Linked DNA regions of Homo sapiens: region 2 is linked to region 1. Evidence: fine-mapped expression QTL. A gene starts in region 1. The other region holds a variant in brackets. All regions are shown on one strand. Distances are between the middles of the regions. Region 1 holds the start of FEM1C (fem-1 homolog C). Region 2 has its middle 88 kb from the start of FEM1C.

Region 1 (16,753 bases):
GTCAGGGAGGAGAGAGGTACGAATCAAGGATGTGGGGCAGGTGCAGGCCAGAGCCTGGCGGGCTTTGGAAACCACATGAATATTTGTAAACTTTTCCCTAAGAGCAGGGAGAAGCTGCTGAATCTAAAGGAGCCTCATGACATATGTGCCTTTCTCTCTGAGTAGCTGGGGGAAATTTGGTTAAGGAGGCAAGAGCAGTTGTAGGAAGGCCTGTTAGGAGGCTAATGCCTCAGTCTGGAAGGGTTAATGGGACCATCTGAAAAACTCTGTCACCTGGCACCACCACTCCTACATTCACCACCAAGTTATTTCTCTGCCAAGTGAAAAACACTTTGCATTCATCACTAGTCTGGATACTCCATGATTACAGAGTTCTGTGGACTGCATGGTCTGGTTCCTACCTGCCTCTAGCTTGGGGGGTCCACATCTCCCTCTTATTCACAATACTCCACACGTGTTGGCTTTCTATTTGCTTTCACAGTGCACTGAGTTTTTTCTCACTTCAAGACATGTCCTTAGGAAACAGTGTTTACTTCTACCTGGACTCCTCCTCCTTGCTCTACTCACTTCCTAATTAACTGCTCCTCCTCTGGCTTTCACATCAAGTAACACTTTCTCAAAGCAGCCCATGTTGACCCCTTAGAATAGGTCATGGCTTCTGTTGCACACCCTTAAAAGCATATGTGTTTCTTCTTCCTAGTGCTGACCTCACTTTGTATATGTTATGTTTGTTTACTATTTGTCAGAAATCTTTTGATAGCAATGAATGAAATCCAACTCAAATTGGCCTAAACAAAAAACAAAAAGCGTTGGAAGACGGATGTGTTTGTTCATATATCCGAGAGGCTAGGACAGGGTTAGCATGTTGCCTAACTCCAGGGAGCACTGTTCAGTGATTCTGGAGGCAAGCAACACAGTGGCACTGGCCAGGGGATATTTGACCTCTGACATGGCGGGATCTAGGGGTTCAGACCATGCCATGGTTCCATCTCTCCTTCAGTTATGTTGATTTTGGCATGGACATCCTCATGGAGCCTATCATAGCGGGCAGGGTTCAGAGGATGGGATTTCCCAGATGAAGTGTTTACTCAAAGAAACTGGAAACAGCAAAACAAAAGGGGTAAGTGCAAACCATAATCAACATGAGCCATCCACAAATGATCCAGTGGAATCTGGTCACATATCAGATCTGAAGGGCAAATAAGTCTACAAATGGGCAGTGAATCTAGGGATTAGGTGTCCAGCAGTCAGGAATGGGAGAAGAAAGCAGGTTGGAAGCAAGTTAGAGGAAACTGCTCAGGATAGAAAACAAGACCAAGGTGGTGGGGCCCATTCTTGCTGGTGTTTCTCCAGTGATGGGGATGTGGTCCTGCAAGCTATAAGCTGCAGGCCAGGTCCCAAATAGATGGGAGTCCTTCAGGGAGACAACTATACACAGCAGCTCAGCCCCAGGACCTAGGGACTGAGGGGGTATGGAGAATGGCAAATTGGAGACAGTAGACCCATTACTGAGGAAATATACTGGGGAGGCAACGTAGTACCTACATTCTGGCCCAGACTGTCTAAAGTCAGACAAATTCCACCCTGCCATTTACTAGCCATGTGAATTTGTTTAAGTTACTCAACTTCTCTAACCCTTGGTTTCTCCATCTGTATAGAAGTACTTACAATGTCTGTTATAAAAATTAACGTAGCAATGCTAAACCTTTTTTGCACAGCCTCTTTCACACAGAAACACTAAATAAATGCTCACTGCTATTATTAGCAGCAAACTATAATACTAATTAGCAACAAAGGAAACTAAGAAACAATTTGGAAACCCATGGTCAGCACAAGAGCTGTCATTGCTAGCTCTGAATTGCCATGCCCCTTTCTTCTTTAGGTCTTTGCACAAGGTATTCCACATTCAGATCTCAGCTCATACATTCCTTCCTCGAGGTTGGGGGTCCTGCTGTTCTAGAGGTGCTGGCCTGATGAGTGCGCTAAAGACATTTGAACCTGTCTCCCTGTATCTAGTTTGGCCTGGAAACTAGGGGAAAGGCTGAATCTTCCTATTCAAAGTCCAGCTTGTGCCTGAACAGAGGTGGACTGAGTCTCCACATCCACTCATTCATTTTCACTATGCAAATATTCACTGAGGACAACCTGTGTGCCACACACTCTGCTGAATTATGGTGACTCAGAATTGAACATCCAAACATGGCCCCTGCCCTCCTGGGCCTTCCAGTTGTATAAAGGAAATAGATAAAGCATCACAAGGATCCTAAGAGAGGAAGTAAAGGGCACAATGGCAGCTATGGGGAGTGGAGGAAGTAGGCAGGGCAATATGTGGCATCCAGTTATAACAAGGGAGCTACAGAGGCTGGGAAATTGGCAGGGCCCACCCCCACCCTGAGTCCACGTGTACACATTTTTCTTTGAAACGGGCCAACAGAAACCTTGCATGTATATCCTAGCAGTTTTCCTCTACAAACAGTTTAAAAATACATATTTCTTACAGTAGCTAGGAATGTAAAATAAGGTATAGGACCTGGAAAACAATGGGTTCTTAAAAATAATGTCAATATTGGTGGTTGTTTAGCATCATTATCATCACTGTCAGTGTCCTGCTGATGATAGGTACAAGGTTGAGTGTGAGATTGCTGTCAGCCTGTGGAAGATGTAAAAAGCACAGTTTTCACCATTTTGCCTCCCAAGACATAAATAGAGATGAACAGGTTGTAGACAGAGCAAAGGATCAACTGGGGAGACTGTAGCTCTCAGCCTAATATTCTCAGATGAAGGTAAGGGTCACATAATTTTTCACCGAAGCAAGGCCTTTGACTTCTCCCCTAAATCCTTCAAACCTTATAAGCTACTCCAAGAACAACAATAACAATGATAACAAAACAAAACCAACTTAAGAGCCAACAACAGCTTGGGTGAATCCACACTTCCATTAATCTAGTCCTCCAGAAAAGGTTTCTGGAAATTACATTGCTCTTTCTCCTCTCTCTAGCCACAGAACTAGGGTACTGCTCAAAACATTTTCTTTTCCAACACAACTGACATTTTCTTTTCTTTTCTTTTCTTCCTTTTTTTTTTTTTTTTTTAAACAGGGTCTGGCTGTATCACACAGGCTGGACTGCAGTGGTGTGGTCACGGGCCACTGCAACCTCCACCTCCCAGGCTCCCACCTCAGCCTCTCAAGTTGCTGGGACTACAGGTGCACACCACCACGCCCAGCTAATTTTGTATTTTTTGTAGAGACGGGGTCTCGTCATGTTGTCCAAGCTGGTCTTGAACTCCTGAGCTCAAGGAATCTGCCCACCTTGGCCTCTCATTCAGGGCATAGCAACTTTATGTTACCCCAGGAACCATGAGTGGGGCCTGTATGCGATTGTAACTGAGGGACCCAAGCTGGTGATTTTATCAAAACAAACAACTGTAGGCATTATTGTTTATTCTTAAGTTGGATAAAGTAGAGCCCTAATAGGCAGGACTCTTCTGGGCAGGGAAAATAAGGGATTCTAGCCCCAGAACCTACTGAATAGACGCACTGAATTAGAATTTAGGAGTGTTCTGTTTTTTGTTTTGTTGTTTTTGTTTTTAAGGTGGAGGTGGAACATGAGCAAATTACTTCTTTTACTCAGTGATCCAGAAGGCATACCGTGAGATCCAGGTAGAGATCCAGGTAAGGGACACTGTGAGATTCTGGGGTCCCTTTGCCTGAGGAGTGAGGGACTTAGCTGGACAGTTTTCCACATCATGTCCAGCTTGTTCTCAGGACAACCAGATGCTGACTTTGACTTGGCGCCCTCCAGGTTAGCAGAAGCTGGGCCCAGCCTTGCCCCCTGTGCCCAGGTTTGGGTTCCACCTGAAGGAAGTTTTATGGCCATAGCATCAAGTTCAAATTATTTCACATGACTTCCTAAGATTCTCCCCAGTCTGCCTCCTTCAAAACTCTCCATTTTTCACTGATCCCCTGTTGTGGGTTATTTTAAAGCCATGTGAGATTTCTTTTAGTTCTTCAGCAGCCAACCTTTCTCTTCTTATCTAGAATTAATGCTTGTAAGCATTTCTCTCTGCCTGCAACTTTCACCTGCGAAAACACCTACCTATTCTTCAGGCATTTGCTCAATCATTACTGCCTCTAGAAAGCCTTCCTCTCCACCACACCCCAGCCCAGAGGAGGTTCTTTGGATTTTCTAGGAGGGCATAGATGACACAATCTTGCTCATGCATGCTGTATTTCCAGGCTCACTCAGCACTGCGCAATGCACACAGTCAGCAATAAATACGTGTTGAAAGAATAAGCGACTGACTGAATGAATAGATGAAAGAAATATGCCTGCCCTCCACAAATGGCTAATCAGAGGGTTACTTTCAATAAGGACTTGGAAGGTGAGGGCTGTTTTAGGTATCCTTGGACTGGGTGCCTCTGACTAAGGAATTGAAGCTTGTCTGAAGCACATGGGAAAACACTTACTTATTAGTTAAAATAAATAACAGTAAACTGACTTAGCCAAAATAAAATAAATCATGGAAAACTGATTGACTGTACTGAGCTTAAAGAGGATAAACATACAGCAGTACTCAGTGTCAAGGACACATCTGCCAGCCTGCTTCTGAGGATCTGATCTATGCTTCTCATGGGGAGAACCTTAGGTAGCACAGACCTACCACTAATGAAAGTCTTCAGATGGGTCCTCAGGCATGCTCCACAATAGCACTGAACTCACAGAACATACACTAAGGGGCTTATCCCCTCTGACTAGCAGTTGTAACTCAAGATTTGATTGTATGTATGGCCACATGTGGCAGGAAGAGAGGCCAAGACTTGGCATGAGACCTACCCACTACAATGGGACAGGCTTTGAAGAACTAACCTAGGTGCAGAGAATAATGCCAGTGGAAGAGCCAAATGGGAGTCATTATTAAGAGATACAGTAGCCCCAGTTACAATCCAGGCAACAACTGGCCAGGGGGTTTCCAATCATAAGTATTGGGAGTTTGAAGATGGGTTCATGGCTGGCTCCAACAAGAAAGAGTCAAAGTGAAGGTCCCTACCGTCATGACTGAGTTCAGGGCTGGGATATGGACAAGACATATTGGAACTGCCAATTGGCAGCAGGAGAAAGAAGCCAAAAACAGGTGGGATTGGGGCTGGGGAAAGTGACCTTTCTTTCTGAGGCACTGGCCTCTTCAGAGAATGGCAGCAGTGGAACACCCTGTGCCTGTGTAGGAAGGACCTAAAGATGGAGTGGGAGGCACAGAGTCAGTGGACACAGTCACTAGACGCCCAGAAAGTCAGGGGGATAGGAAATGAGGTGGAGCTGATCCTCACAGAATTCCACACTAGAACATAGTAAATTCCACTGGGAGGATGAATGGCATGAGGTTCCTAGACCAGAGAGCACTTGGGGGGGTGTTGAAGCAGCTCTGGAGTTTGGAGTAATCACCTTGGGAGAGAGAGAGAATCATCCATAGTGATTTGTTCCTATTCAAATAGGGGGAAGAGGGCCTTCGAGCTAAGCATCTGAGGAGGTGGCTGGGAGCTCTTGTGTGGGGATGGTGTTGGTGTGTGTGTGAGAAGGCAGCTTTGATATAGTTGGGAACTGGTGCCAGGATGTGAAGACACCTAGAGAGTGAGGCTGTAAAATCAAAGTTTGTTTTGTGAGTTCTGAAAGAGGAAAGCACCAGAAGATCATTCGAGTGTCTAGTCCTGGTCAACAGGGGCATTGCAGTGGAGTCTGAGGCACTCTCCCCAGGCCTGGGAGAGGAGGTGGGAGTGCCCTTGACCCAGGTATGGGAGACGATAGGGAGTCCTTGTTCTGTGTGGAGACTTAGATAGACTACTGGGTTAGTAGAGATCTGACTCATCCCTCTCTAATAAAGCGTGGATCCAGTGACTTTGGGTGGGGTCGCATGTGTTGAAAACTGAGAAGAACCTGGCCCCATCTGACATCAGTCTGGGTGGTGATGGGGAACTCAGGACCAGAGTTCGTCACTTAGGGTGTGGCTAGAGAGCTAGAGTTAGGGCCCTGACAACTTCAGGAAATAAGACAACAAAGGAAATAAATGGATACTTTTATAATGACATAAGATTTCTAGCTTGTAATAATGTGATAAGTGAAATGATAACCCCATACTATAGAGGGAGACTGGGCCAAGAGAAAATTAACAGAATTTGGTGACTGAGTTGCTGCCTCCTTATCTTGCTTCATTCAGAGAAGTAAAGATAAGACCAAACTACCCAAAGGGAACCTGGAAATCTCCCTGCTAAAAGAATTCTTGCGTGCATATTTCTACAATTTTAAAATTAATTTGGGTTCACAAGTTTCCTTTTTAAAATGCTAGTACCCCAAGGAAGTATTCTTGCTTTAAGTAAATAACCTTAAGTGGGGTCTCACTCCTCCTAAAACCTGCAAGAGAGAAGCTGCATGAAGAAAATATGAAAGCTGGTTGAGCTGTAGGAATAGGAAATGGTGTGTTAATATTAGGATACACTTTGAGTGAGGGGAGTAGGGATTTTTGGTCGTTCAGAGGGTAGCTTAGGGCACCACTCTCTCCCTGGCACGGGGGAAGCAGGAAGAAAGAAGGGAACATCTCACGTGTTCTCTCAGCTCCAGCATTCTGGATGGTGCCCCCTCCCACCCCCCTCCTGCTGACTTTTGGCTAGGCTTCCTCCTACTAATCCTTTAAAATTCCATTTAACCTTCACCTCCTTCCCAGATTTGCTCAAGCAGAGTTAGCAGCTCTGTTCTTTGGGCTCTCACTGTTGTTTATACACATATTTTGTTTTCATCTGTTTATAGCTACATTTCTCCTACAGACCATCAATTCCTCAAAAGTAGAGATTATGTCATATTCATCCAGTATCTAACATAGTACATAATAGGATTCCATAACTTTGTTTTATTGGGGTTTTTTTTGTTGTTGTTTTGTTTTGTTTTTAGACAGGGTCTGGCTCTGTCACTCAGGCTGGAGTGCAGTGGCGCAATCTCAGCTCACTGCAACCTCCGCTTCCCAGACTCAAGCCATCCTCTCACCTCACCCTCCTGAGTAGCTGGGACTACAGGTGTGCATCACCATGCCTGCCTAATTTTTGTATTTTTTGTAGAAATGGAGTTTTGCTATGTTGCCCAGACTGGTCTTGAACTCCTGAGCTCAAGCAGTCTGACAGCCTAGACCTCCCAAAGTGCTGGGATTCCAGGATTCAATAATTTTTAAGGTGGTGAATGAATTTATGACAATTAAAATATCTCACCTTGAGCAAATTATCAGTGTTAATAAAGCGGACTTATATGAGAAAGACATTTCTAAATAGCACAAGAAGCGTACACCTTGCTATGCTATTTTTGTGTAACTTTTAAATTCATGAAAGTAGATTCTTTTCATACTTTTCTAAATAGAACTATGCCCAGTTAGTTACCAAAAACTAGAGATTTAAAAAAAATTCATCCTGGCCATTTCTCAAATTAGAACAAGTTACCAAAGTATACCAAAACCGTGCAAGCAAACTGTTTCACTGAGGTTTCTGGTTTAAATATAGACTGGCAGGAATTAAATGTTTGACAATCCCCAGAAGGAATACTATAGAAGGAATGTTCTACTAATTCAAGGATATTGCACAGACCAAAAAAATCCCAAGGGTAGCCAGGTAAATTTGGGAAACTTGGCGGTATCATTTAACACATACAAAACCAGTAAGAATTTTCAAAAAATATAATATCAAGTGGGTTCAATGTTTGGTGAAGTCAATAGTGCCTTGCTGGTGGTGACAGATTGGTCTAAGTCTTCTAGGAAATAGTATAACAATGTATATGAAAAGCCAAAAAGACATTCTGTAATCCAACTCTTGGAAATTTATCCCAAGGCAATATGTGAGAAGAAGAAAACAACTTATAGGCCTGAAAATGTTCATTGTTCTATAATTAGGGTGTCCCCTTTTTGCTGATCCAATTCCTCCTCCCCATCAGCCTTTCAGGTAAGGGGTAATGTCTCCTCTGGGCTTACATTATAAAGCCTTGGGCCTAGGGAAATGCTCTGGATGCAAGTAACACTTTGCTCCCCCGTCGGGGAAGCCTGAATATTCACCTTGGCTCCCGGAAGTGGTTCCCCTTTTTGTCTGTCATCTCTGGGTACTTACCTGAATGGGTAATTCAGAGGCTGTCTCTGGTCCCTTTCCCCTTTTCCAGTCTTTGGCTCCCCCTACAGACCCCTTAAAAATGAGTCTTCCTGTTATGCCCCAGTAGCATTCTGTGGCTTTCAGGAAGACAGTAATTGCTGATTTAACCAGACATCAAAGTCTTAATAACCAAACCAATCCAAAGCAAACCAACCAAACCAAACAAAAAAGTTGTCCCTCCCATTGATGGAAGGTAGAAAAGAGGTGGGCATTTAGAAACACAATGTAAAATCTATATAAAAGGAAATTTAGTTGATTTTCTATTTAAGAAAAAAAAAATCAAAGATTGGAAGAACAAATGTTCTTTAGAAATGGAAATGACTTCCAATAGGGGGTTGTGAATAAGTCTCCAAACATTTCAATTAAGTCTTCAAACATTTTTACTCATGCACATGAGATGCTATCTACCCTCCTACATATTTTTCAATTGTCACCTAAAATTTTTCATCATAAGTTTAAGTATTCGCAAAGGTTGCAATTTTCCGCAAAATGTAAAAATTAACATTTTTAAATAAAACATGCTTTTAAATGAATCCAACGAAATCTAAATATCATAGCAGTTATGCTTACTATGAACCATTTAAAAAAATATATGAACAAATTATTATTTACCTATAGGATATTTTTACATAATTTATTTTCTCTTCGCATTTATAATTCCATTCCACATCCCATTCCTCAGGAATATATCCTAATTAATGTACTTTTATGTTTGAATATGTTTTTTGTTTTTGTTTTTGAGACAGTATCTCGCTCTGTTACCTAGGCTAGACTGCAGTGGTGCAATCACAGCTCACTGAAGCCTCAACCTCCCAGGCTCAAGTGATCCTCCCACCTCAGCCTCTGGAGTAGCTGGGACTGCAAGCATGTACTTCCATGCTTGGCTAATTTTTAAGTTTTTTGTAGAGACAGGGTCTCACTCTGTTGCCCAGCCTGGTCTTGAACTTCTGGGCTCAAGCAATCCTCCTGCCTGGGCCTCCCAAAATGCTGGGATTACAGGCGTGAGCCACTATGCCTAGCTGAATGTGTTTTATGAATCACTCTATTATATTTCTCTGCAATGAAAATACATATAAAAGCCAGGCACAGTGGCTCATGCCTGTTATCCCAGCATTTTGGGAGACCAAGGTGGGTGGATCACCTGAGGTCAGGAGTTCAAGACCAGCCTGGCCAACATGGCGAAACCCCGTCTCTACTAAAAAATACAAAAATTAACTGGGCGTGGTGGCAGGCACCTGTAATCCCAGCTACTCAGGAGGCTGAGGCAGGGATAATTGCTTGAACCTGGGAGGCAGAGGTTGCAGTGAGCCGTGATCGTGCCATTGCACTCTAGCCTGGGTGACAACAGGGAAAACTCTGTCACAAAAAAAAAATATACATATATATATATATATATATATATATATATATACACACACACACACACACATATAAAGAAATACATATAAGTTGAAATTTAAGTTTCTTATAACTAAAGACCCTAGGTGCTCATTTTCTTCCAGATTGAGGCATCATTGTATTTATTAGTAATTTTCAAGTATTCAAAACAATACAAAATATAAATTTTTTGATTATTAAATGTGATGTTTTACAATTAAGTGCACACATTTATTGTTAAATACTACTTCTTACTAGAATGAGACAAAGTTCAGATTCAATGTTTTCTCAATTTTTCATTTTTATAAATTCTGAGAAAATGTTTTCACATTAATAAGTAGATGGAGGCTGGGTGTAGTGGCACACACGTGTAGTCCCAGCACTTTGGGAGGGGGAGGCAGGTGGATTGCTTGAGCTCAGGAGTTCAACACTTGCCTGGGCAACATGGTGAAATGCTGTCTTTACAAAAAAAAAAAAAAAAAATTGCCAGGTGTAGTAGTGCATGCCTATTGTCCCAGCTACTTGGGAGGCTGAGATGGGAGGATCACTTGAGCCCAGGAGGTCGAGGCTACAGTGAGCTGAGATTGTGCCACTGTACTCCAGCCTGGGCAACAGAGAAAGACCCTGTCTAAAAAAAAAAAAAATAGTAGTTGGGTCTATAAGGAGTTTTGTCATTATATCAATGTCACTTAATTCTTTGAACTCCTTCTAATCGATATCAGTGATCTTTAGGTCATACTTTTTTCAAAGCAATTATTTGGAAATCATCTGACTTGCAAAAGAATTTGTTACCCAGTCATTAGAAGTATACACTTTCTAATATAGATCAGTGTTTTAAATTTATAAAGAATTGGCAAAGATTGCTGAGCCTTTTATAACCCAGAGCAATGCCTGTAAGATTCTCAAATGTCTTTCCTTTTACAAATTGGGAAACATACAGCTATTGTGAAAGAGTTGGGAAATGAGACACCTTGACCATATTCCTTTACCAGCAGATCAATTTTAGGAAAGAACGTAGGTGTAAATTGAAGATTCAGAAACTGGTAGCCTTTTTTTTTTTTTTTTTTTGACAGAGTTTCCTTCTGTGGCCCAGGCTGCAGCACAGTGGTGTGATCATGGCTCACTATAGCCTTGATCTCCCCAGCTCAGCTCAGGTGATCCTGCCACCTCAGCCTCCTGCATGCCATGCCTGACTAATTTTTTGTGTGTGTGTGCGTGTGCGTGCATGTGTGTGTGCGTGTGTGTGGAGTTGGGATTTCACCATGTTGTCCAGGCTGGTCTCGACCTCTTGGGTTCAAGCAATCTGCCTGTCTCAGCCTCCGAAAGTTCTGGGATTACAGGTGTGAGCCACAGCAGAAATTGGTAGCCTTTAAACTAAGTGTCCGTCTATCCCTTAACAATCCCATGAGGGATACAGAGCTCAGTTTGAAGATGGCTGATGTGAATGTTTACATCTTATTGAATTAGGTGAGAGAGACAGGTCAGCTCAGGTTAGGCCTTGGTTGGGACACTGTACACTGTTATCTGTACCCTGGGAGAGTATAGAACTGTGACATATGCTGGGGATAAAACAGCCAGTCCTCTTGGCTGGTTAATTTTTATGGATGGTCAATCTTATCCTTTATACTCTATTCTTTTATATTTTCTTCTCAGTGGCAATTACCTTAACTTCAGTTTTGGGAATCTGATGTTGAGTGTAGTCTGATACTGACTACCTAAGGGAAATACTATGCTATACTTAAAAATTATTAAGACTGTAAAAACATAAGAAACGTTTAGAGTATAGAAAGGAAAAGCAAAATATATAGTTGTATGAAAATTATTTCAATTATGCAAAACTACATAAACTTCTGAACAACACTACAATATACAAAAATGAAGTTGTGATTTTTTATAAATGTTTTTAGTGCTGCATGACTTCTAACATAACGTTATGGATTACATATGCTGAGGGTCAGACTGCCTACTGTAATATTCTATTTCTCCTAGTGGTACTAAGGAATTATGTGAGCTTAAGTTCCCTCAAACAAAGTGATTGAAGGTCCATTTTCAAAAATTCTGTTTTCTCATCAGGATTCATTATGGGCGTTATTTCCCAAACACATTTAAACTTTTTCATCCTAGTTTAATGCAACGTAGGTTTTAGCATCAAATTCCAGAGGTTTATCAACTACTATATGAAGAAGTAATTCTTTTCATTCATATATATAACCTTTTAAGCTTTAGTTCCCGATTTATTACTCAGAGCTCAAGAACCTGACCTCATTGACTTTACATTGCTCTTAGGGTTTACCATTCCTCGTAGCCTTTATGCTTTTTAGAGGCTACTTTAGAAAGAGAGTCAGTTTGACAGCCTCCAAAACTAATCACATTTTCTGAAATTTCAGTTTCCTCCGTGTGTGTTCTGAGGTGTAATTACGAGCTTGGTAATTTCCAGGGCCCACCAAAGTAAGGACGGAAGACTAGTCCGAGAGACTTCACGTGTGTGAGGGTAATACTGGTCCGCACCCAAATTTGAATTTTAGCTCCCATGATTCCCACATATTGTGGGAGGGACCTAGTGGGAGATAATTGAATCAAGAAGGCTGTTTCCCCCATGCTGCTCTGGTGGTAGTGAGTACGTCTCAGGAGAGCTGATTGTTTTATATGGGGTTTCCCTTTTTCCTTGGCTCTGATTTTCCTCTCTTGCCTGCTGCCATGTAAGACGTGCCTTTCCCCTTCTGGCTTGATTGTGAGGCCTCCCCAGCCACGTGGAACTCTGAGTGCATTAAATCTTTTTATCTTTATAAATTACCCAATCTCGGGTATGTCTTTATCAGCAGCGTGAAAACGCACTAATACACTTCCCTTCTGGGGTCTCTGAGATGGGACCGAAAGATTCCCTAAGGGAGCACCCCGAAAATCCGAGAGGAGAAGAGCCAGCGAGATCTCAGAACTCGAGCTGCCTCGGGCCGCTTCGATGGGCACAGATCCGCCCCCTCGCAGCGCCCCGCCCCCCAGCGCGTTGCACGCAGGCACGTCCTCCCAGTAGTTCAGGCCCCGCCCCCTCCCCGTCGCCCCACCCCGGCCGCGACGCCCCGCCCCGCGCCTAGGCTGTTGCTGGCCGCGGCCGCCGCCCTCCCCCGGCCCAATGGCGTGGCGGCACAGTCAGTGATGTGACGCTCAGGCTTGTCCGGCCCCCGGCTCGCAGCCCATTACACCATCCGTCGCAGCAGTCGCTGCAGCCGCTGCAGTCCGAGCCGACTAAGGGCGGGAGGCAGCTCGGGTGGCGGGGCGTGGCGAACAGCGCGGCCGGATTCATTCCTTTGGGGCGCGGAGCATGGAGGAGCTGTGCGGCCGCAGGCGGAGCAGGGCGGCCCGGGCGGCGGTGGGGACAACGGTTTCCCTTTGAAGGGGACGGACAAAGCCCGAGTGACCAGCGGCGGCGGGGAGGACTAGTCCCCGGGCAGGTAGTGGCGGCGGCAGCGGCCTGCCAGGGCTCGGGCCGGGGCCTGAGGTGCCCGCGGAAGGCCTGGGCGGGAAGGAGGGCGCCGGGGGAGCCGAAGGCGGGCAGCGGGCTGGAGGCCACAGCTTGGCCCATCGGGAGGGGGTTGTGGTCGATGGAGGAGATTGGGAGGGGGCTGCCGTTGTCTGGAACAGGGAGAGGGGAAGGTTGTGTTGGGGCGACTGTGGTTTGAGGAACCTGCGGATCATCCCTTGGCGGGGGGTGGGGGGTGATCGAAATGGGGCGGGCGAAGTTAATGACTAAAAGGCAGGCGGATTTCCTGAGAGCCGTGAGTAGTTTTAAAGGAAAGAGAATCTTTCGGGGCACAGTTTTGGCCTTAGCCGGGGTTTGGTGTGTCCGACCTTTTTGTTCTTTCTCGAAACCCGGCCTCAGGCCTTCCAGCCTGGCGCCCTTGGCCAGCTCTCCTGCAGTTGCAAGAAAGAGAAACATTTCTGAACCCGAGTCTCCTGCCTCTTTCGGTTGTACTCTCCCTGGGCGTGTGCAAAGCAAAACTAGAACAAAGCTTGGCTGGTTAGAGCTGGAGGCGAGAAAACGGGCTGCCTGTAGTGTTTAAATTTTCCGCACATGGAGGAGACTGCCTGCGACCAGAACATTTGGGTCTCTGTGTATCCTTCTGTATTTTTCTTTACCACCTTTTCTTTGGGGGTGGGGGGGGTGTGTGGGATGGAGTAGTGCCTGAAGTATAGCTTTTATTCCTTTCTTCCCACAGAAGTGGAAATTAAGAAGTGTTTTGCCTTCTTCTATAGAAAATTAAATGCTGCTACTTTTTTTTTCTTTCTCTAGTTTGGTGCCCTGGTTGTCAGATGTTGGAAAGCAGTAGGACGGAACATACTCTTCGTGGTTGTGTATCCGTTCTGGGGTGCAGCAATTAACATTGGACTTTGGTTCCTGTGACTCTTGCCTGTGTCGATAGAGTTAAACTGGAGCTCTGCTTTGAAAGATAAATAAAGCACAGCCTCTCAACTGGACATAAATGGATCTAAAGACAGCAGTATTTAACGCAGCTCGGGATGGCAAACTCCGGCTTCTCACCAAATTGTTGGCAAGCAAATCCAAAGAGGAGGTTTCCTCCTTGATCTCTGAAAAAACAAATGGGGCCACGCCACTCTTGATGGCCGCCAGGTATGGGCACCTTGACATGGTGGAATTCCTCCTAGAGCAATGCAGTGCCTCCATAGAAGTTGGGGGCTCCGTCAATTTTGATGGCGAAACCATTGAGGGGGCTCCCCCTTTATGGGCCGCTTCTGCAGCAGGACATCTGAAGGTGGTCCAGTCCTTGTTAAATCATGGAGCATCTGTCAACAACACGACTTTAACCAATTCAACTCCTCTTCGAGCTGCGTGTTTCGATGGCCATTTGGAAATAGTGAAGTACCTTGTAGAACACAAAGCTGATTTGGAAGTGTCAAACCGACATGGGCATACGTGCTTGATGATTTCATGTTACAAAGGACATAAAGAGATTGCTCAGTATTTACTTGAAAAGGGGGCAGATGTTAATAGAAAAAGTGTCAAAGGTGAGTTCAGCTTCTTTGTTTTTCTAAATGTCTACCACTTATTTTCAGGAAGTTTGATACATCATTATAAGCACTGGTGTTGAGTAAACCAGCATTGACAGACCTGTTTTGATTAGGTAAGTCTTCCAGTATGACTTTGTTGAGTGTTTCTATGATGTTTGGTAATAGATTGAAAAAGTGTGATAAAAGACTTCTGTTACTCTGTTAAGCAGTATTTTCTCTCTTATTTGGAGTAACTTAAAATTCTTGGGAAATGGGTTCCCCAGAGTTACAGAGCATGTTAGTGGTAGCTGATCTGAGCCTTTAGGCTTATGCTTAATCTACTTGGGAATATGGTTAAATGTAATACATTTTTCTTAGCTTTTTGTTTTGTTTTTTTTTTTTTTAGAACAACCTTGGAGTAGAAATTACTATATTTATTGAGTCATGGTCTTGTTTGTTCTAGGCAGTCATTTCACTTTTTCTGTCAGAGAAGGCTAGGCTAAACTGACCTGGAAGGATTAATATCAGTGGAAAGGAGCAAATCTGTTCCCTTATTCTATATTTGTTTGTGGTCAATAGATAATCCTTTTATAAGAACATGCATTAAATATAGCAAGAGAGAAAACACATTTTTAAAACTGCTTCAATACTGAGAGTGAAGAACAAGGACTAGATTAAACAGATGTGGATTTGTTGGCTAGCAACAGTGTAAACACCTTTGTCCAGAAGAAGGGCTCCGGTTTTTGATTGTGTATAATTTTTGTTGATTGTAATAAACTAAAAGCAGCAAAAAGTAGTTTAGAATTTTTTTAACCCTTAAAAGCAACTGCCTTGATAGCATAATTTTGATACTTGAAAACCTTAACTTCCCTTACACGAATCTATTTATACGACAGCAAAATAATTCACTACCTAATTTTTAAAAGCCATTAAAATTTAAAAGTAGCATATAGACATGTTAAAAAAAATCAAACAGTGTAAATTGGTTTACATTGTTGGTTTACATTTGAATAAAAAGTCTTATTCCTGATTTCTAGATCTCTAATGCGCTGACAACCACTATTTACAGTTTTTTATGTGTCCTTTTAGAGTTGGTCTATGCAAATACAAGCATACTTGTCTATGTACAAGCATGCTTGTTTGTGTAGCCCTCCGTCTAGTGGTTGATTACATACTTTTTTATCTTTATTTATTTTTCTAACCTTGGATGTCATTCAACTCCAACACACATAGCTACCTCATTCTGTTTTGTGGCTATACAGTATTTCATTGTATGAATGTACATAATTTATCTAGTCTCTATTGGTTGATATTTAGGTCACATCCAGTACTTTGCTAATATAAACAATGCTGCTGTGAACATTCTTGAACAAAAATGTGTCTTTTCACGCTTGTGTGAGAATAACTGTAGTATAAATACCTGTGTTCAGAATTGCTAAATCAAAGTGAATGTACATTTGCAGTTGTGATAGTGTCTGCCTTTCAGAAAGGTTAAACCACACAATTATGGGGCACTATATAGTTACTGAGCATATTTGCTGTAGATTGTGTGATCTTTTATAAAAATGATACAAGTGTGATCTTTTATAAAAATGATACAAGATCATTGTGATTTTTCTGAATTTTTTTTTCCAGAGGAAGTGTAAAAATCCCACAAAATCCCAGTACTCAGGGATAATACTTCCAAAGATATTTCTGAATTTTGCATACTGATATATGTATGCAGTTTTATATGCTGTTCTATAACCTGTTTTTTAGCTTAATAAATGTTATCTTTAATATTACCAATTATAGCTCTTTAATTTCAATAGCTGCATACTCTTCTACTGATGGAGTTTTATGTTGCTTCCAGTTTTTCAGTATGATAAAAAATGTTTCTGTAAACATTCTTTCTAATAAGTGTTTTCATTTGTTCCTGATTATCTTTAGAGGTGGCTTGGTAGATCAAATGACAGCATGGCTTTTCTTTTTTCTCCAAACAATTATCATTCTTTTGAAGAATGCTTGTTTTAAGACAACAAATTACTGCTGAACTAACCATGTTAATATTGGGAATGGTTTGAAATCATGGCTGCTTGTTTAGGTTTGTTGAATTTTTTGTTTCTTTGTTTTGGGCTTTTTATTCATCAGCTTGATGTAGATATTATTGATAAACTCATATTTAAGTCAAATTGGGATATGTTTTAAAAGCCTATGTTATTG
Region 2 (16,753 bases), 92 kb after region 1:
GGTCTTACCTTTCAGTCTTTGTTTTTTGATACTGAGAAGTTAGTTGCCACTCTGTCACAACTTTGAAAGTGTTCTTTTTCTCTAGCTTATGATTTTCCCTTTCTCTTTGCTTTTCTTGCAAACCAAGGTATGGGTTTCTTTATATTTATCATATTAGGGATTTATTGAACTCCTGAATTTTTTGAATTGGTGTCATTCATCAGTTTTAAAAAACTCTTGGTAATTTTTTTTTTCATTTACTGTCTGTACCCCATTACTCTCCTTATGGTCTATTTGGAGACCTATGTCTCCAAGACATAACATACATATGTTAAAATTTTCATTCTATGTTAAGTGTTGATAAACTGTGGCTTTGGAGGTAGTCACCTGTTTTTGTAAATAAAGTTTTGAATATAGTCATGATTATTCAGTTGCTTGTTGTCTATGGCTTTTTTTGAACTATAGTGGCAGAATTGACTAGTTACCACAGAGACAGTATGGCCTGCATGATCTGAAATATTGACTCTCTGGCCATGCAAACAAATATTTGGCAATCAATACTCATCCTTTCGTTTTTTTCTGGATACTTTCTTCTAATTTATATTCCAGTTCCCTAATCTAATATTTGGCTATATCTGTTCTACCTGTATATCTGGTAAACCTGTAGAATTCTTAACTATAGTTACTGTATTTTTTAGTTCTAGAATTTCTACTCAGTCCTTTTTCAAATAAAAGCAACTTTTTAAAGTTTCCACTTCCCAATTGAAATGTTCAAGATTTTCTTTTTCAGTCTGAAGACAGAAAACATGATTTTGGTGGCTGTGCCCAATACTTTCACTATCTGAAATCTTTGTGGGCTTGTTTCTGTTGTCTTTTTTTACTCCCTGGTTATGTCTCATACAGACCTTATGCTTAACATTGTATTTGAAATCTTATTCGTAGAAATAATTTGGGCATAGATTGAAAACATCTACCTCCACAGAAAATTTTAATTTGCTTCTGACACTCTAGACTACCTTAATTGAAATTTCAGGCTTGAGATTCCCTGGATCATCCATATGAGAACAGTGTTGATTTCAATTTATTCTTTCTCTAACAGCAGCGATTCTCAAACTTGTTTGTACATTTGAGTCACCTGGGAAACTTTAAAATGTACTGATGCTTGTTTCCTACAGTCAGAGATTGTGATTTGAATGGTCTCTGGTGTTACCTGGGCTTTGGAATTTTTAAAAGCTCTCCAGTGATTCTAATGTGCCCACAAGTTTGGGAAGCTCTGCCCTAAGAGTAAAGCCCTTCAGGACCTTCATTTAATGTGTGGGTATTTATCAGACTTTCCACTTGGCAGGTCCTTTTATCTATTTTGTTCAGTGAGGCTGCCAAATACCACAGCTCCATACTGCAGCTGTTTCTTCCTAATCAGGGCCAGTGCATCTGTGAGTACTTGCTTTTTCCTTCTTATATTCTCCCAAGTTTTTGGCATGGTAATCCCTCACTAGTTTGCTTTTTAAGGATTTTAAGAAAAAAAGTATGTATGTATATATTCATCCTCTACGTTACTCAATATACATATATAGCTGTTTTAGTCAACCTCATCAGGAGGATTGGTCTAGACTGCCATTAAGATAACTGAAAGTCCTCCAGTTGCTTTTAAAAAAAAGAAATAGGGGTAGTGTTTTTGCATTCCTACTCTTCTGAAAATGTCTTTATTTTATCAACTCTCTGGAGTTATAGTCTGGCTGAGATTCAAAGTCTAGGTTGAAACTTAATTTTCCTTCACATATTTGAAGGCACTATCTTATTGATCTCTTCTAACATTTATTGTAAGTGTTGTATAATCCTATTCCTTCCTCATGCTTATTTTCTTGTAAGTGACTTTTCCCCTCTCTTTGGGGACACAATTATCTCATAATGTTTCTCACATAATTTGGGGGTAACACATAATCTCACAATTACATAGTTTGGCATAGGGTGGGCCTTAATTAATTTATTTTTCTGTTCATAAAAGCAATGTGTTCAATCTGGAGATTTTTTTTTTACTCCTGGGAAATTTTATTGTCACTTTACTTTTTTTCTCTCTCTCTTTTTATTTTTATTTATTTATTTATTTTTTTGAGACAAGATCTCACTCTGTTACCCAGGCTGGAGTGCAGTGGTGTGATGATGATCTTTTTTTTTTTTTTAAAGGTAAATAAGTTATTTATTATTTCTTTCTTTTTTTATTTTATTATTATTATACTTTAAGTTTTAGGGTACGTGTGCACAATGTGGGTGATTGAACATGGAGTTCATAAATGCAAATCGGTCAATCAATAAAGCTGGAAACTTTTTCTTTAGGATAATTTAATTTGTCAAAAGATAATCTGATAACCATCATTCTACTCGCTACCTCCAAGACATCAACTTTTTTCAGTTTCACATATAAGTGAGAATATACAATATTTGTCTTTCTTTGCCGAGCTTATTTCACTTAACATAACATCCCCTAGTTCCATCCACATTTCTTCAAAAGACAGGATTTCGTTTTTTATGGCTGAAAATGTATTTATATACAATAGCATTCCATTGTATATACAGACCTCATTTTCTTTATCCATTTATTTGTTGATGGACACAGGTTGATTCCTTATCTTGGCTATTGTGAATAGTGCCACAATAAACATGGGGGTACAGATATTTCTTCAATATTCTGATTTCCTTTCTTTTGGATATATTCCCAATCGTGGGATTGCTGGATCATATGGTAGTTCCATTTTAAGATTTTTGAGGAACCTTTATATTGTTTCCATAATAGTTGTACTAATTTACATTCTCATCAGCAGTGTATAAGCATTCCCCTTTCTTCACATCCTCACCAACATTTAGTTTTTGTCTTTTTGATAACAGCCATTCTAACTGGGGTGGGATGATATCTCATTGTGGTTTTGACTTGCATTTCCCTAACAATTAGTGACGTTGAGCATTTTTTCACATACCTGTTAGCCATTTGTATATCTTCTTTAGAGAAGTGAGGCGGAGAAGAGTAGTAGGGAGGGAGAAATGAAGAGAAGTTGGTTAAGTTTGCAGACTTCCATGTCCCTCCCCTCTGTTGCCCCTATCTCTGTAGCCCCAAGTCAAAGCCTTTCCCATTCAAATTACACACAAAAAAACTCTTTCATCACCAGCCTGGGAAACTAGTGGCCTGACTGTGCAAGGTGAGAGAAGAACATGACTGCTTCACAAACGAACTTTCAACTTCTATTTTTAGCTCCTTACCTCACCCCAACCCTTCATTGTACCTGCTGTCTCCAAATCTTGAGCATCTCAGGTTTTCCATTGGGATGAATGAGCTAATTCATTTGTGGTAACTTGTCTTCAGGTGACTTAAATCCTTGCTTCCTCTGTCTTACTAAACCACTTACCTCCATCTGGTCCTATCTTTCAAACTTGTGTGGAATTCTCTTGTCTGCTTGTTTTCTTTATTCTCTTTGTCTTTTATGGGTTTCTACATTCTTTTAGACTCTAGTTAGCCATTCAAACTCCATGATTCATCAGTTCCTCATCCATACATGAAAATAATGCTGGCTTTGCCTATCTGACTCAGAGACTTTTTGTGTGTGGATATAGTTTGATAATATACATGAAAGTGATTGTGGGAAAGCCTAGAGGTCTTTATCATTATTTTCCTTATGATGTCTTTGTCCTCATTAATCTGATTTTCTAAATAAATGCTGAATTCAAATTATGCTCTCATTTCTCACCAGAATGAGCAGTGTCTGTTTCTTCTTGGTTGTGGAAATTGTATCCCTCTTCCTTTTCATCTGCTACCATCTCTTTTCTGTTGAGGTTTTCAGGGTGTGCATGAATCACCACTGCTCCAAATGACTGTGTGATATTCTCTGCCCCACCCTTGAAGCACTCATCACTGGCTGGGTGGATTCTCACTGAGCTATCATGGGTGGTGACACCTACCATCTTTGAGCTTCCCAAGGAGTATCCCAGCTGCTAAACTGGGACTGATCAACAAGGGGAGGCTGATTCTCCATTGCTGGAGTTCTGATTTCTACCCAATGGGTGCTTTGTTGTGAAAGAGATTTCACTAACTAGTCAGGCCAAACCACCTATTTTAAATCAAGATAATGATCGTTAACACTTCCAGATTCTAAGAATGTTACATGTTTTAACTTATTTCATCTGCACAACACCCTGTAATATCCTATGTCACGGGGAACAAAACTGAGACCCAGGTTGATTAACAAACTTGCTCAGTTTCACAATGCTCGTCAGTAGCAGAGCTGGAATTTAATCCCAGACAATCTCTCCCCAGAGTCTAGGCTCTAAACCACAATTTTATCCTGTCTCTTAAATCGGCTTTGTTTAACTAGCTAAGAGTGAAGAAAATCTTCCAGAATTTAAAGTGCATAGTAGGGTGCTGGCCTTCCTTGATTCTTTGATAATGTAAATAAAAGTCAACACTGGGGTTCTACCTCTAAGGTTCTACCTTGTTTGTACCCAATACTCCAACCAATTGGACACTGATTTCTTAGGTGCTTGAGTAATAGGCTGATGGCAGGTTGAACCATATGAAATTGTCAATATTTGGCCATTTTTGACCTATATAAATGGCAATGTCATATGAATCAATTCAATATTTGTTGAGCCCCTACCTACTTTGGTGGAAGACATGGTTCCAGGCATTTTTCTTACGTTACTTAACCTTTACAACAATATTTCCAAGTATTTTTACCTCAATTTTTCACATGAGGAAATAGGCTGAAACTAACTAGCTGGAGATCACTCAGCAATTGAAGTGGTAAAGCCAGGGATCCTGTTCCAAGGTGGATTCCTTTCCACTGCACAGCTCTGCTGGCTGAGCCCCAGGAGCTGAGTGGAGCTGGAGGTTCTGCAGGCAAAAAGGAAGGTCACATTCGAGTGGCACACTCAAGTTATATCAGTTTTGAAGTTGAGCATGAGTCAAAAGGAGGAAATCAAATGACCTCTGGTAAACAGATATGAGTCAATCAGCAGCAAAAGTCAGCTTTGGGAAAGTGAATCAGACCTATTCCATTTTATTCAGTATTGTCACGACTGTGGGTGTACTTGCTACAGCTTTAAAGAAAATTTGGGGATTGAAGGGTGATTTGCCTAATTGGAGAATACTGTCATGGGAAGCCCAGCCAGGAGAGCCCAGATGGGGGTGGGGAGGCGGGGCATCTAAAACAGCTGGGGACTATTGGGATTCAAAATTGGAACAAATACAACTATGGAACTTAGGGAGTTTGAGGAAGAGATAGGATGGGAAGGTCTTTGGTAGTACAACCAGAAAAGAATGATAATTTGGGGCTCTCCAGAATCTCCAGTGCTAATTGAGCCAGATGGGGCTTGGCAACCCAGGTTAGCCACGTGGAAGCATTTTGGAATGACTACAGGCTGTAAGTTACAGATGCTGGGTTGGGAAGACAGGGAGTGTTAAATGGGCACAAACACACTGAGATATGTTCCAGTTAAGTGGAATATTATTCAGGGGTAGATGCAAAAATAGTTGAAGTGGTTCATAGACATTCATTTTAATTCTATGACTTTCCTCTGTGGGAAACTACTTTCATCTGGTTCTTTTCAATATGAAGTGAGTCATATTCTTTTTATTTGCCACAAGCATTTATTTGCCATAAGTGTCTTAAAGCATTTGACAATTGCTGCCTTATTTTCAAGAAATTGATTGAAACACCCTTGCTGAGCTGCTCAGAATTTGAGATTAATTCTCAACCACTGGCACAAAAGTAGCAAGAGAAGATAAGAGTGAATGTGGTCATTGATCAACAGATGTTTGTTTTAACTCTTTTCTGGAAAACCTGCCAAATACTGGGGAGTGTAAAGGCATCCAGACTGCCTTCTCTGAGCTTATACTCTAATTGGGAGAAATATGACATATACACAGAGCAGAAGACATTGACTTACAAATGCCAAATGTGCAGTGAATAAACAAAGTTACGGGAAGCAAGGAGGCCGACATTGGCAGTGGGGCTAAACAAGGCCCATGATTCCTGGAGAGGGTAGATTTGAGCTGATCCTTAAAGAATGAGCATTCAGGGATACTAGGAAAAGGGAGGAAGGCATTGCAGGCAATGAGAATGGCACAAGAAAGAAGTCCAGGGGTGAGAGAACCCCTATTTGCTCAGAACCCAAGAGGACCGGGTTGGACAGAGTGGAGAAATTGTTGGTGAAGTAGTATGAGTGCCCCCACTTCTTTTCTCTACATGATTTCCTGAGTGATCTCATTCCGTCTTTCTCATTTAAATAATGTCTATATGCTGATGATTCCTGGATTTATAATTCCAGCACAGACTGTTCTTCTGTATTCATGACAGAACTCTTGATTTTTGCCCTCCCAGCTCATCCCTGTCTTCCCACTTCCCATGTCTTTCTCCTGTTGGTAAATGGCATCATGATTTACTCAGGTGATCAAGCCCAAGCCCTGGGAATCATGCTTGACTTCTTTCATTTACTAGCCCATCTCTGATCCATCAACAAGTGACATCAGCTCTTCCACAAGAGTATCTCAAATATGTTCATGTTTTTCTGATTTCTACAAATACCACCCTGGTTCAAGGCACCAAGCTCTCCTGCCTGTCATTCTATCATAGCCCCTGATTTCAATCCTTCCAAGCTTAGCTCCCTGAAGTACTTTCTGTAACCTGCAGTAAGAATTTTGTTTTTGAAATGTCATCAGAACATATGTCAGTGGATCACTCTTCTGTTTAAAATGCTTTGATCGCTTCCCAGTGCTCATAGTATAAAATCCCAACTCCTCACCATGATCTACATCACCCTGCTTTGTGGACACCTCCCATGCCTGGCCAGCATCCATGCAACTTCTTCTACTAGCAGATTCTCCATTTTTCTTTAGGGGAACTACCCCTCCCTGATTCTTCCTGCAAGTGGTCTGTGTGGGCTGATTCCACCCCATGTCCTGTTTCAGCAGCCAGCAAGTAACTCCAGCATGGACAATTAGCATATTCTTTCCCCATGTTACAGTGGTTGTCTGAGAGATGAACACATCTCCTAAGTTGATTGGATAAAACTCAAGCCTAGATCTTTTACTAGAACACTGGTGCTTCTGGTGAGGGCCTAAAGAATATTACAATCATGGTGGAGCGAAGGGGAGCCAGAATGTCACACGGTGAGAGACAAAGCAAGAGAGAGAGGAGGAGTGGCATGCTACTCTAAACAACCAGCTCTCACATGAAATCACAGACTAAGAACTCACTCAATGCGGCAAGGACAGCACTAAGCCATTCATGAGGGATCCGCCCCCATGACCCAAACACCTCCCACTAGGCTCCCCCTTCAGCAGTGGGGATCACATTTCAGCATGAGATTTGGAGAGAACCACGTCCAAACCATATCACCTGGGAACTGCTGGCTGTAAAATTATGCATACTTGGAGTTAATAGGGAACCATCTGTGGGAGGAGGCTTCCTGAGTGCGAAGCCAACTCAGAACAAAGGAGACTGGGAATGGAGAAAGACCAAGTTTTGTGGACTCTGAGTCCAGCACAATCCTTCTTCCCATGCAGTGCCTCTACTTTTCAGTTACATGAGTCAAAATGTTCTCATTTTAGTTCTACTGTATGC[T/C]TATGCCTATACCTATCTATGTCTATTTATCTTTTGAAGAGATGGGAAGATCTCTTTCCAAGGAGCCTCCCCGGGAGTCTGCCCGTGTGTCTCGTTGGCCAGCATTGGTTCCTATGTCCATGCCAAACCAATTCCCAGAGGCTTAGGCCAATCCCTAAAGTGCATGGATCCTTGGGAGAGTAGGCAAAATTTGAGTTCTGTTAGAAAGCAGGTGGCAGGTGACTCATTGCTGGTTGTAATTTAACAGGGTCTGCGACGTAAGGTTATCTTCTTTTCTTGGAGTTTTCCAGGCGCTATAAATGTGAAAGAGGCCTGACACCATGAATGGGGGAAGCAGTTGGTTGTATATCTAAACAGGATTGGTGGTTTCCAAACTGACCCCTGATGGTCTGCATGATTTTGGTGGAATCCCCTCTGCTTTCTTGATTTTAGTTTCAATCTCTGTATTAGGAATTCAGAGATTTAGCCACAATGTGTATACAGTGTATACAGCACAGACCATCTCAGAAAATAGATTTTAAAAAGGACCTTCCCTTCTGTGTTATTGCCTTATAGAAACTCATAAAACATTTTTGAAGCCACAGGGTTTTATCATTTTGCTGCAGCTTTTTTTTAAATTTACCCATTCCTGCCCCGTTCCCAGTGCCACCTCTTTTCCCTGTTCTGGTTATTTATAATTTAAAGAGAATATGCTCTGCCTCTCAAACACTGTCTATTGGAAACCACTGACACAGAAAAGGAGAATCAAAATCAGTCTCCTTAGGCTGCCTCTGAAGGATTTCACGCAGCTGTAATTGAATTAGTGCCTTTTCTGAATGGTCTGGGGCCAGGATCAATAAAGCTCCACAAAAGTTTAGACTCCTAAGGGGAACTGTGGGGAAACTGCAGGAAGAATTCCAGGGAGGGCAAATCCTTGAGGGCTGCAGAGCCCAGAGCAATGCAGCCAGCATGCGCCAGATGTTATGAAAGTATGTATGCTTGTAATGTAAATTAATAGCCATCAAAAATAACTGCAACATCCTGGGGCACCCACTGCCACCACCAAACCTAGGGCTCAGGGTAGACACCCCAGTTTCCCTCCCGGAAGAACAGGCTTGATTTAGAAGGGGTCCCCTGGAGGGTGGAGCTGAAGGTGAGGAGTTAGGCGAACAGATGAGGCAACTTGGCCCCTGGAGACACCCAGACCTTTGTTCCTAGGAAGTGGATCCTCCTTTTTTGCCGTCTCCTGTTGATCCTCTGTGACTCGGCTCAGGCTCTGCCTTCCTCTTAGAGCCTGCCCTGACACCTGTCCACAGTTCTGATAGTTCTGTGCTCCCACGGCACTCTGCCCTTGACCAAAGAAGCTCTTCCACGGGCTGAAATTGCAGGGCCATTTGTTTTTCTTCCCCACTAACCTTGTTTCTTGAGGATTTACCAATCACTTCATCAAACGCTAGCTGTGTAGCCTCAGACAGATTTATTAGATTTTCTGAGCCTGTTTCCTCATCTGTAAAATGGGGATAATGACAAACCTTTCTTCAAATGGTTGTTGTGAGAATTAAATAAGATAGTGTGTAGCCCAGAAGCTGGGGTATAGTACTCTGTAAATATTGTTTTGGGGTTATTACATCATCATTATTATTATCTTTATATTTGATTCCTCATCAGTGAGTCAGGGTACATGTTGCGTGATCAGTATATGTTGTTGAGGGAAAATGAATGTGGGATCGCTTGAGCAGAGAAAGAACATATAAACAGGTAATGATAATGAAGATCATTATTATAGTAAGCCAACAATGCAGGGAGACGTGACAGGGTGGCAAGTGTGTGTAATTAACTCTCTAGAGGGAGGGACCTACAAGAGTTCATTGATTGCAAAAGAATGAAATATCCCTGTGAGATGAAGCAGTCAGGCGAGACTTCACCAGGGCCAGTAGAGCCTGCGATGTCTGTAAGGATAGATGGGACCTGAATACACAGAGAGGAAAGGGGAGGAATTTCAGATAGAGGTCCCCTATACTCAGACCTGACATCTTGGAAAATGTGAGCATTGGGGATGTTCCCTTCAGGAGCTGATATTTAATTTGACTTTAGGATCTGTGGCTTAACCCTAAAGGGCCCAGCCCAATCCCAGAGTCTGTTTTATTCTTGTTGGAGAGTGGGTGGCGGTGGCAGTACCAAGCCCACACATCTGCAGAAACATTTTCTTTGTAAACCAGCTCTCTGTGACAATCATTGCATGTGTTTTGGGGTAGGGGCCAGCTGACTCAGGAATTAATCAAACCTTTTATGCCCATTCTCATCAGCTTTCAAAGAGTCTTTACACAGAACACTCCTAAATGAGCAGTGAATGAATATTCATAGACATATTTTCCTTACCACCAATCCGGAAGGACACCACTCTCAGAGCCATTTTGCTGTTTCTTGGTAGAGTGGACTGACTTTGGCCTTTGTGCTTATTGCAGAGAAGAGGGAAGTGAGTCAGCCCATAACACTGAAGAAACAGAATGTCCTTCTCCCATCTGTGATAAACTTGTCAAAGGCCAAGAAGCACGGAGGAGTCAGAGGGTTTCCAATCAGAGCCCTTGTCTGCAATGGGTAGAACAGGTTGACGTGTGCATTCACCACAGACGACCCAGATTACCCTCCATGAACCAACGGACTCGGTTTCTCATGACCTACTTTTCATTCATTTGCCTTGCCAGACCCACAGTTCTTGGCATTCTGATTGGACACTGCCTTTCAGGAATAATAACTCCTACATTTAAAGAGCAGTTTCCAGTTTGTGGGGGCTTCTGTCCACATTATCTGATTTCTTCAATGATCCCGAAAGAAAGGAAGGGCAAGAATCATTTAACCATTGCACAAGTGAGGCATCTGAAGCTGAGAGGTGAGTTCAGTCACAGAAAGGCAGATGTGAACTTAGAACACACAAATCCCAACTCCCAGGCCAGGGCTCTGCTGCATGGCCCCTTTGCCCTCCTGCTATAACCAGGATTTGAATTATTGACACTGCAAGTATCATATGCTCAAAAACTCAAATAATGTTTGAGTCCTTCATCAAAGGAGTAAGGCAGTTGTTCAACTTCTGCTCTGAAAGAGGTCTCCCAAAGGGCAATCCCATTGCAGAACACTTTCTAAGGCCCACAGGAACTCAAGTGGATTTCGCTTCTCTGAAACTCATTCCAGTGTTCTTCTGAGTGCCACGCAGTGCAACACAAACCGTCTCCTGTCTTTCACCTCTCTTTCACGTGGAGTCTTGAGGGCTGCCCTGGCACAAGGAACTGTTTCCTCTCCAACATTTCACTTGACAAACAGGCACTTTCCTACAATACTTGTGAGGGGTCAAACAGGCCAGGTCTATGGAGGACAGTTGTGTTATATTCCTTAAAATTACAAATGCATTGACAGTTGCATTCCAAACAATCTCACTTCTGGGGATTTACCTACATACATACCTATATATGTATAATAAGATGTATGTACAAGGTTTTCAGCTGCAGCTCTGTTTTGTAATAATAAAGATTAAATTCAATCTAAGGGTTCATCTGTAGGAAACCAGTTAAATAAATTATAGCAGAACCACATAAACACTATGCAGCTACAAAAATGAGTGAGGAAGTTTTCAGTAAATTAATACAAATTGCCAGGATATATTATTAAGTGGAAAAGCAAAATGCAAAACTTTGTATATAATTTGCTACATTTTGTGTAAGGGATGGGAAAGAGTACGTATTTGCCTGTGTTTGCATAAAGGAACACTGGAAGGATATTCAGGGAACTCATAAAATGGTTACTTTTGAGAAGTAGAGACTGGGATAGATGAGCTAGTGGTGAGGGAGAGGGACCTAGACTTTTTAAAGGGCACTTCTGACATCATTTTGAGTTTTGAAGCATGTTAATGAATTATCTATTCATGTTATTAAATTAAATCTAATCCACTTGCCCCTAGGAGCCAGCCAAGGTGTGCTGACCTCTTGCCATTGAATTTCTACCTTGGAGGCTTCCTAGAGGTATTTGAATGGAATCTATATTGTTAAGTCTTGGGCCATTGCTCAGGCATCTCATGAAGTCACTGGAAGATACTATCACCTAAAAAGACCCAGTCAGGTGAGAATGTGTCACCTCAAGTGGAGATACAGAAAAAGTGAGGAGGTGTCCTGAGGCTGGGCAGGGTGGAAGGATTGCTTGGAGGATTGAAAGGCTTTCCAAAGTTGTTTGAATGACTTTGGGATTTTGTGGAAATTAAGGCCTCCCCTTTTGGAGCTCAGGTGAATTACCAGGTTATCTTCCTACTGTGTTCTAGGCCTCAAGCCAGTCCTGTGGCACTGAGATAGGCCAATCTAAGAATCAGTAGATATTCTAATGCTAGCTCAGCTGCAGGTACGACCTCACCTGGAATGAGGCCTGGCTTGAATTGGCTTCTAAGAGTAAGGTCTCAGCACCGATTGCTCCACCCCATTATGTGGGATATGCTGGAGACCTTAAACCACCCCAAGGACAGAGAGGTTTCCCACTCAGCAACAACCAAGTGCCTGACTGCTCTGGCTCTACTCAGAGGAAATTAAGCAGTTTAATTGCACCAGCTCCCCTCTCTCCTAACAGCCTCTGCCCTTCCCAAATATGCCCTTCTTTCCTTGTTATTGGTATATTCATTTCAAGAACACTTGCATGCTCGATTTTACTAGACAACATAAAAATGAGCCCTGCCTCTACCAGCAGAGCTGGCAGTAAACCGTGGTCATCATCAATGATTCTCCTTCCCCACTTCCACTTCACTGCAGGGTGGGGACAGGTGTTGGAGTAACTTTGTCATTTTTACAATTTTCCTAGAGCAGTGAGAATAAGATATAAAGGAGCAATTTTTTCCTGCCAAGCAAAGACACACTTGCATTCCACAGCTCAAAACACCTCCAAGTTGGCTGCATTTATGTGGAATTTTGAACCATGCCTCAGCATACCCTAAGCTCCCCTGAGCATTCAGTAAGGGCTCAGGAACTCAGTGAGGTGTACAGGAAACTCTGGACTCTTCCTACAAGCATAATAGAAGCATACAGAGAGTACGGCTTTGCTGAGAAAAGTGGCTCAACTTGGCTAATTTGCTTCACTGTTCATTTGCCTCCACCATGAGTAACAGAAAGGAAAATTTTAACTGGTTTCTTCTATTTTCTCTTCACTTAGATGAAAGAAGTATTTGTTTTGTTTCATTTCACTTGTAGGAAAAAGGCCTAGATAGGTCAAAGGAAGATAAGAAACTTAATAGAGCTCTGAGTTGAAAGTCTAGGCTCAGATTCAGGCCCTGCCCACTGATGGTCTGTGATTGATTTCATCAGTCTGTGGGCCTTGATACCCTACCTGTGGAATGGGTGTAACAGATCTCTTTTGTTACGTCTTGAAGGATGTTATGAGAAGAAATGAGCTGGATCTTCACAACTGTTTTCCTTTCCTACCCACTACTAAGAGAACCTGTGGAGAAATACCTGTAATCCATGTCTTTAAGGAGCTCACTGTTTACAACAGAAAAGAGACAGAGCACATGTATACTGACAAAAATAATACTGAGATAAGCATACACTAAACCATCAACAAGAATCAAGTCGTGTGGTAGGACTGTGAGTACCTGTATCAAGGAGCCCAGGAGTGGAGCCATTGGAGTGAGTGGTGCCTGGAAGGTGCGGGCAGGACTCAGAGCCAGGTGTTAAAGGTCTAGGGATCACATTCACCTGCAGGGCAGATAAGAGCATGTGAAGTGGTCAATGCAAGCCAGTGAGCTGATGAGGGCCATAGTGAAGGTTTTCAGGGTAAAGAAAAAAAGATCAAACTTTGCTAGATGAACAAAACCCCCCTGCAGGCAGACCCCAGCCCTTGGCTGCAATTTGTGACCTCTGGGCTAATAGGTCTGTACAGACACAGAGAGGTGGGGAAAGGGAAATAGCAGGGGTCACGACTTTTGGGGCTTCCAGTAGATGTGCAGGATTCAGTGCCCTTGCGGGGAGAGGGTCTGAGTGCTGAGCGACCCCTACTCAGGTTAGCACTTAGCTAATCTGGCTCTGAAGCAAGGGGCCCCTGCTGAGAAGCACTGTCAGTCCTGCTGAGGCCTGGAACTCTATATGCTCATGTTATTCTTTAATGTTGTTATTATTTTCACCAGATACTGCATGTAGGAGCAGAGCCTTTGTCTAGGTCTGTGGGAGCCCACCCACACCCCGTTGCCAGAACTGCTCACCTTGCCTGCCACAGCCCTCGGACTGGCCCACCTGAGTCTGTGCCCAGAGCCCTCCGTCCCACCCACCAGAACAATGGGAGTGGCTGGGTGTGGGCTGCTGTTGTGCACATGGGAGGCTGGGACACTTGATGAATTAAATCATTAACCTTCAGCTTCTCCAACACCTGCTCAGCTGCACAGCTAGAGCTCCTCGTCATCACACACACACACACACACACACACACACACACACCCCTATGAAGCTGCATTTGGTAAATTTCTAGTCACAAATCAGTCAAAGAAGACAGTTTAAACAAGGAAGGCCCCTGCTTGTTTAGAGTTGTGGCACCTCTCAAGGTGATAGCCTCCTGCCCCTTAGTTGTATTACAAACAATCTAGGAAACACACTCCTGACACATCTAATAGTGTTTCTCAAAAGTTTGAGAACGATAGCATAGTCACATCAGAACCAATGTGCAATTGTAATGTATTTTTTTTTTAATTTTCTCAGAAAAGATCGACTGTGGGGAATGAATAAGATTACAATAAAACCTGAGGAATTTAATGCCACATTAATTGAACACACATTTTCACTTGAAGCATTGCCTCATTTCACGTCTCATCCTAGCTCGGCCCCACCCAGCAATTACATTTCATATTCATCATTAGTATTTCTGCTATGATAATGGGTATCAAGGGGAGTTCAGTTGATTCACAGATGGTACGATTTTGCTCAGTTCTGGAGGCTGAGTCTATAGTAAATGGGATAGCCACATAGAAAGTGTGGATTCCATTAATCATCTGGAAGCTTCCCAGAAGTTGCTGCATATCTGCTTTACAAACAAAATTCAGAGGCCTTCTGGAACTTTCACATTGTATTTAAAAACCCTTTCAGAACTGGTAGCACTGAATTCTTGCTTAACTTGGGAAATTCCCTCTATTTCCCCATGGCCCTGGACCTCTGGGCCATGTAAAAGTTGCTGATGTTTGTTCTGGGGAGACACTCTGGCTTGAGATGGGCTGACAATAGTTGCTCTTAAAGCTTAGGCTCTAATTTGTTCTTTAAGGAGGTTGAGGATGAAAGCCTGTTTTTGTTTAGGGTCTTGGCTTACTTTCATTTTAAACAGAGGGGAAGAAAGGCAGGAGGAACTGGAATGAGGTCACAGGCAGTAATTGGTCTAGGAAATGGCTCCACAGGACCCCTGCGAAATGGGCCTTCATTTATCAGCCTGGGAAATAGAGGTCATTGAGAAATCTGAAATATTTTTTAGCATGGTGCTGGAGGAAGAACCTGACTGGTGGGTGGGGTACAATCAGGGATTCCAAACTCTGCCTACAGGGACCAGGCTGGTAACTTAAATAGGGTGGGAAAAACTTGTGGCTACCTGGAGAGTCTTGGCTGTGTCCCAAAAAGGCACGTATGTCAGCCCCAGCCAATTGTTGTCCAGGGTCATTCAGTGGGTCTAGTGTTGCTAACTGTAATTGTTTTTCAAGAGAAGCTGGAAATCCAGATTTTTGTATGTAATCTTTCAACCTAATAAAGATTGAGAAATTAATTTAAATATTTAAAACCTTAGGAGGATCATTAAAATATATTTGCAATCAGTATATGGCCCCATGGCCACCAGTTTGCTACCTCTAGTTGGGACATCTTCTGGCTCAAGACAGATTTGTTCTCTTCAGATATTTTTCAAGTCTACGAGTCCCTTAAGTAGCAGAGGTTTATTGAAATCTCTGTCCCACACTATCCTGAACTTTGAATGAGGGTGGGAATAGAAGAATATAAGGCAAAATTATTACCCTAAGTTTATATTTAGAAGAGGAAGCAAGATGAACACATATTATTACTTTCTACAAGGGCTTTATAGTTGTGGATGTAGCTTATTTGTCCTCTCAGATTGTAAACTCTTCATCACTTCAGGGGCTTCCAAGACAAACTAAGGTAATAATGAAAAGTTAGAGGTGCACAAATTGCAACAAAGTAACGTGGTAAAATGCCAAAATGGCAGAGAAAAGTCTATGGATTCCAGGGTAACTTACTGAAAAGGGGATGCTGAGGAAAGCACCTGAGTAAAGGTGTGGAGAATGAGAAACCAATGTGATTGGAAGCATCCAAGAGGCTCATTTGCCAGGTGGAGCAAGAACAATGAGGTCGCTATTACAAGAAAGAAGAGAATGAAGAGCCTTTACCAGATTGGTGACAGTGAGAACATGAAAGAAGAGGACCACGTGAGAGACTGAAACACTGGACTGGTAGAATCAATAGTGCTTGGAAACAGGGTCAATGTTGGGGCTAAGGCAGTAAGTGATCAGAAAATTCCCTAGAGTTTAAGCCTGAGTTCTTGGAAAATACATATATATATATACATATACACACACAATTTAGCAAGGAGGTGGACAATGTGAAGGGGGCCAGCCCTTCCATACCTGTGGGTATTTCTCATCAGGCGGGACGAGAGACTGAGAAAAGAAGTAAGACACAAAGTATAGAGAAAGAAAAGTGGGCCCAGGGGACCAGCCCAGCATATGCAGGACCTGCACCGGCACCGGTCTCTGAGTTCCCTCAGTATTTATTAATTACTATTTTCACTATCTCAGCAAGAGGAATGCGGCAGAAGAGCAGGGTGATAGTGGGGAGAAGGTCAGCAAGAAAACACATGAGCAAAGGAATCTGTGTCACAAATAAGTTCAAGGGAAGGTACTGTGCCTGGATGCGCACGTAGGCCAGATTTATGCTTTTCTCCACTCAAACATCTCAGTGGAGTAAAGAGTAACAGAGCAGCATTGCTGCCAACAAGTCTCGCCTCCCGCCACAGGGAGGCTTTTCTCCTATCTCAGAATTTAACAAATGTACAATCGGGTTTTATACCGAGACATTCAGTTCCCAGGGGCAAGCAGGAGACAGTGGCCTTCCTCTATCTCAACTGCAAGAGGACTTCCTCTTTTACTAATCCTCCTCAGCACAGACCCTTCACGGGTG

What was found. PIP is the estimated chance that this variant, and not a neighbour inherited with it, causes the effect.
Region 2: its variant is fine-mapped to the expression of FEM1C in whole blood (INTERVAL, PIP 0.97).

What each region holds. Positions count from the first base shown.
Region 1 is chr5:115,540,766-115,557,518 of GRCh38, reverse strand. FEM1C (fem-1 homolog C) reads left to right here and starts at 12,744. Exons shown (of 3, transcript NM_020177.3): 1 at 12,744-12,996; 2 at 13,836-14,569. The coding sequence starts at 14,026. RefSeq lists silencers at 12,454-12,793, 12,894-12,943, 12,994-13,163 and enhancers at 12,593-12,887, 12,429-13,195.
Region 2 is chr5:115,448,797-115,465,549 of GRCh38, reverse strand. No RefSeq gene overlaps it. Among named protein-coding and RNA genes, the nearest start is that of FEM1C, 88 kb to the left of the region's middle. RefSeq lists an enhancer at 4,049-5,248. The variant T/C (reference allele first, on the strand shown) is at 7,590.